Homo sapiens: one gene and its partner. The main gene of each other region encodes a partner of the protein of the gene in region 2 in a complex. Each region holds a gene or a part of one and is shown on either strand. Other genes may lie near its edges.

What was found.
Region 1: TUBGCP3 (region 2) and TUBG2 share a complex: the UniProt entries of both Homo sapiens proteins name them as parts of the gamma-tubulin ring complex.

Annotation. Positions count from the first base shown.
Region 1 is NC_000017.11:42,662,048-42,664,988, reverse strand, and holds part of TUBG2 (tubulin gamma-2 chain), read right to left. Parts: intron 2,017-2,941; coding exon 1,937-2,016; intron 1,613-1,936; coding exon 1,486-1,612; intron 1-1,485. UniProt on the Homo sapiens protein: Tubulin is the major constituent of microtubules, protein filaments consisting of alpha- and beta-tubulin heterodimers. Gamma-tubulin is a key component of the gamma-tubulin ring complex (gTuRC) which mediates microtubule nucleation.
Region 2 is NC_000013.11:112,484,257-112,487,229, forward strand, and holds the end of TUBGCP3 (gamma-tubulin complex component 3), read right to left. Parts: intron 1,896-2,973; coding exon 1,737-1,895; 3' UTR 755-1,736; downstream 1-754. UniProt on the Homo sapiens protein: Component of the gamma-tubulin ring complex (gTuRC) which mediates microtubule nucleation.

The DNA of each region.
Region 1 (2,941 bases), on a different chromosome or scaffold from region 2:
AATCCCAAGGCCAAGGTGGGAGGACCACTCGAGGCCAGGAGTTGGACACCAGCCTGAGCAACACAGCAAGATGCCATCTCTGTAAAAAATATAAATAAAAAAGTATAAATATATATAATATATATATATATATATAAATATAAATAAAAAATAAAAAGAAAGAAAAGTACTGTTTCTGGGGCACCATGAGATACTCTCGGACTACGCAGGGCAGTAAACAAACACGTGAGTACCCACATGTGCCATACACTGTGCCTGGCTCTGGGAAGACCACAGAGAGGAACAGGCACCGTCTTTCCCTTCATTAGGCCTATAGTCTCGTGGAGGGAGGCACACTAAATATAAAACAGAAAATTATAGTTAACTCCCTAAAATACACATATAGGAATCTGATCTTGACTGAGTAGTCAGGAAGGGTTTTGCTAAGAAAGTTATCCTTGAGCTAAGAATACAAGCATGAGTGGGCATTAAGTAGGCAAAGGTGGGATACGTGGTGGTGTGGGGAAGGTATATTCACTTTGTTGAGAGTTTTGCTGCCTAAAAGGATTCTAAGAAACTTAGAAGTCAGGACCTTATTTCCTAATTTGGCCCACAGGTATGGCTTTGTTGGTCTTCTGTCTGTGTGTATAGGGGCTGAGGAAAGGTGGGGTGAATGAGACTCACTGGCCTGAGGAGACAGACCAAAGTCCTCTACCCTTTTTTTTTTTTTTTTAAACACAAGGTCTTGTTCCGTTGCCCAAGCTGGAGTGCAGTGGTGTGATCATGGCTCACTGCAGCCTCGACTTCCTGAGCTCAAGCAATCCCCCCACCTCAGCCTCCCATGTAGCTAGTACTACAGGCACATGCCACCATGCCCGGCTAATTTTTTTTTATGTTATTTTTTGAGGCAGAGTCTCGCTCTGTCACCCAGGCTGGAGTGCAATGGTGTGATCTTGACTCACCGCAACCTTTGCCTCCCGGGTTCAAGTGATTCTCCTGCCTCAGCCTCCAAGTAGCTGGGACTACAGGCACATGCTACCAGGACTGGCTAATTTTTTTTTTTTTTTGAGACAGAGTCTCGCTCTGTCACCCAGGCTGGAGTGCAATGCTGCAATCTCAGCTCCTTGCAACCTCCACCTCCCAGGTTCAAGCAACTCTCCTGCCTCAGCCTCCCGAGTAGCTGGGACTACAGGCATGCGCCACCACGCCTGGCTAATTTTGTTTTTTTAGTAGAGATGGGGTTTCTTCATGTTGGTCAGGCTGGTCTCGAACTCCCAACCATAGGTGATCCGCCCGTCTCAGCCTCCCAAAGTGCTGGGATTACAGGTGTGAACCACCGCACCCAGCTCTAATTTTTGTATTTTCTGTGGAGATAGGGTTTCACATGTTGCCCAGGCTAGTATTGAACTCCTGAGCTCAAGCAATCCATCTGCCTAGGCCTCCCAAAGTGCTAGAACTACAGGCATGAGCCACCACACCCAGCCCCTCAACTCTTTCTTTGCTCACCACACAATCTGCGTTCTGCGTCAGCCTCTTGAGTGTCAGGAGTGAATTGTAGGGCTGAACCACTACGTCGCTCATCTCGTCCTGGTAGGGAAACACTGAATAAGTCTGCACTAGCTTCTTGGGGTACCTGAGAGAAAAGAGGATGGTGGCATAGTGAACCGGAAGGACCCCTCCATCACTGCCCATATGTGCCATTTTGTACAAAAGGGGTGAGGGCAGAACTGAGTCTTCAGAGCCAAAAAGGATAAGCCTGAAAGCTTCAAACTCTGTAGATCCCCTCCCCTCCACAGGTAAACCCCCACCCCCCAAAATAGCTTCCAACATGGTCCTTGGGTGGGTCTGTCCCTATGACTCAAAAGGGGTAGTGGCAGACTTTCTAGCTCAAGAGAAAAAAGCAATGACATTACTCAGGGAACCAGGGTTAATGCCCTCTCCCCAAACACAGGCTTGCCTGTCATTCAGTCGCTCCAGGAGGTAGGAGCCCAGGCCAGAACCCGTACCCCCAGCGATGGAGTGACACAGCACGAAGCCCTGTGTGTATACAGGAATAAACAGACTCAGTTTCTCCTGCCACACTCTCACAACACAATTCTGATACCAGATGGGTGGGGTCTTACCACACACATCAGGTAAGCAGTCAATTCTACAGTAGATGCCAGCTGGGTATCCACTAATTCACTTCAATTCTGGACTACCTACAGACTGTCCCTGACTTAGGATGGTTTAATTTAAGATGTTTTGGCTTTATGATGGGTTTATCAGGACATAATCCCATCTTAAATCAAGAAGCATCTGAATTACAATGGTTCAATTTACAATTTTTCAACTTCATGATGGGCTTATTGGGTTATAACCTGATGCATTTCTACTTACGGTATTTTCAATTTTTTTTTTTTTTGAGACGGAGTCTTGCTCTGTCACCCAAGCTGTAGTGCAATGGCCCGATCTTGGCTCACTGCAACCTCTACCTCCTAGGTTCGAGCCATTCTCCTGCCTCAGCCTCTCAAGTAGCTGGGACTACGGGCATGTACCACCACGCCTGGCTAATTTTTTTATTTTTCGTAGATACGGGGTTTCACCATGTTGGCCAGGCTGGTCTTGAACTCCTGACCTCAAGTGATCTGCCCGCCTCGGCCTGCCAAAGTGTTGGGATTACAAGCATGAGCTACCGCACCTGTCCTCAAATTTGTTTTGGTTTTAGAGACAGGATCTCACTCAGTCCCCCAGACTGCAGTGCAGTGGTGTGATCATAGCTCACTGCAGCCTTGAATTCCTGGGCTCAAGGCATCTTCCTATCTCAGCCTCCAAGTAGCTTGGACTATAGGCATGTACCACCATGCCTGGATAATGTTTGTATATTTTGCAGAGATGGGGTTTCACCATGTTGCCCAGGCTGGTTTTGAACTCCTGGGCTCGGATGATCCACCTGCTTCGGCCTCCCAAAGTGCTGGGATTA
Region 2 (2,973 bases):
ATGCTGGGTTTTGGGGTCCTGGCTCCCTAAGGGGCCTGACTGTGCATCCACAATGATGGAGAGTGGGTCTCACGCAGCTCCTCAGAGGCCTCACCCCATCCCAGCTCCCACCCTCCAGACCCGCAGGCACCCCCCAGGGCCGCACCTCCCGGAAGCCCTCCATAGCCCACAAATCTGACCTAAGTCCTGGTGACTCCTACACTCCAATGGAATCGTAATCCCTAAAATCGAGGTGGGCCTTTGCTAGGGTGGTTTCTACTGAGGATTAATCCCTGGAACAACTCTCTGAATAAAATAAAATAAAAGCTGGCTGCATGGTCAATTACCTTGGTAAACCTCTCGTGGAGATAAACAATATGCAATAATTTCTAAAAAACCTTGCAGTAGAAAAACCTGTTTCAAATTTCTGATTTTATGAACTTCAAAACTAAAATTACATTGAATTTCTGGCCTTTGCCATGAATTCATTTCTGCATGGCCAGGATTCCTGACAGCCCCTTTAGTTTTAAAGGTAATCCACACCTAAAGGAGTCAGAGGTGGATTCAGATAACTAAAGCACCGCTCCTGAGACCTGAGCGGTGACATTGCCTTTGCTTCTATACCAAAAGTCACACAAAGTCTACTTTCCTGGTTTCACTGATTAAATAATTCATATGCTGTACTATATTAAATCAAATTCTACCAACCCTCAACCCCCAAATCCAGCAAGTAAACTGTCCCTTCATAAACTACTCAAGAAATAACGAATGCATCTGAAAGATAATTGCTTTTAATTTTCTAAATTTTCACTTATGCAACATAAAGGCAGATTTATGTGACCTGATAATGACATTTTTACAAAAAACAATCCCCCCCACCCCAACATCTTGGTCAGTAGTATATAAATATTTACAATGAAAAAATAGGCAAGGAAAAAGGAAATCTTCATTATCCATGTCGATTTCTTTCCAATGCTTATCAGGAACTTTGAAAATAAAATACTCCATTAACTTTCTCGTCACTCCTATTTACACGCTGCTTTAGCTGATGCATTCGCGGTATTTGGGTTGCACTGTATAAGAGTATTTTTGTTCTCTATCACTCCTACTTTTTTCTATACTATTTTAAAAATCTGAAATAGTAAATTAAATATAAAAATGTAAACTCTGAAAGGAGAGAAAATAAGAATAAATATGTGTAAAGGTAATGCATTAAGATACAAAGGATCTCACAGAGGTTAATATTTTACAACACTAAAAAAAAATAAAATGCTCTATATATTTTCTTAGTTGGGACATTTTGTTTCAATTTAATTTTTGGTTATGTTAACAAAAATTACCTCTAAAGAGGATGTTAAAAAAATAGCAATGACGTTACCATCTTAACTAATGAATATCCTATCACCCTAATTTTTTCTAAAAGAAATGGATTTTTTAAAGTGACAAATATAAATTATAACATAGAAAGCTTAAGAAGCCTCAGCAAATTATGGTATCTTTTAGCGATGAAGACTTTTAGAGACAAATGTGAACAGTGCAGCCAGCCTACTTGACTTAGGGATTTACAAATGCATTCGACTCCGACATGTGAAACACGACGTGGCTTCTCCCACACGCCGCTCCGCTGAAACATGGCGCACTCGTGGGCGGAAGGGCAGGACACCTGCAGCATGCAGTTCCTGCAGGACGTCAATGGGAATTTCGTGTCTAGCAGTGCAACGAACATCACCCGCAGCTCCCTGGGAGGACCGCGAGCTTCACGTGTGGGAGCTGCGCCGCCCCCTGGTACCCAGAGACACACGGAGCCTGGGCTCCCTGGCTTTGTAATGCTCGTTGAAGTCCAGCCTGAAGCTAAGAAACCGAAGACTCTCGTCAGAGCTGGTCGTCAGTAACACCAAAAACTGCTGCACGATACCCTAAAAAGAAGCAAAAGGAGTAAAATATTGTTTCAGAAAAGAACAACCCACAAACGTATTCCCCGGACCTTAATCTCCTTTGGGTTGGGTCTGTTTTTCCTTCCAGATCAACAGGCCCTTAGTAAATGCCCACCAGGGCAGGTGTCCAGGGAGCAAGAGCTGCTGGGACCCTGGAGTGCACACGGCCAGTGCACCTGCATTAGGAATGGGCGCCCTTTTACAAGGACAAATTAGTGAAGAATACATTTGATTTGAAAACAACTAACCAACAGGTTTTTTCACTTTGTTCTTAAGTTCCACAAGAATAAGCAAAACAGCAAAGTAACAGATGTTAGAACATTCTATTTTGAATACAAAACTCAGTGCCACATATTTCATCTTTCATATGACTCATGAAAGAGGATTTCATCCTAGAGCCCTTGCTGGAGAACAAATTGAGAGCATCAGTCGGGTCTTTGGGTCTAGCTGCTGGACGTGAGGCTGCAGCCGCCCTCTTCATGGGCACTGGCATCGCCATCATCCTGTTACTGAGGGCGTTTTTAAAGATGTGACAGAAGTTTCCCCTAACTCTGATAAGACGAAAGGACTGGCTGCTTCTATTTCAGGCTGAAAGACTTGCATACTGAGTACAGGCCCATCCCCGCCCAGTGCTGGAGCCTGCTGCATGCCACGGGGTGCTGATCTGTTCACAGAACTGCTGGCCTGGAAAGGCCTCATCTGCAGAGAAAACTCACTGAGGCACTGCGTCCTCACCAAGCCCCGCCCAAGTCTTCACCAGCTGTCACTGCCCCTTCCCAGCTTCTGGTCAGAAACACGAATGCTGAAGCTCACAGGCAGGCCTGGGCACAGGCTCTGCTGTGTTGATAAAGTAACTTCACCTCTGAGCAGGCAAACACTGTGTATGTGTGTGTGTGTGTGTGTGTGTGTGTGTCTGTGTGTGTGTGTGTGTGTATCACTGCCTTTTTAGGTGAGGGAAGAAGAACACGCCTAAGAAGTTATATTGCCAAAATATAGACAGTGACTTCCTATTATGTGATGATGTGATGAAACTGAAATACAACGGTCTGTGGAACTACTA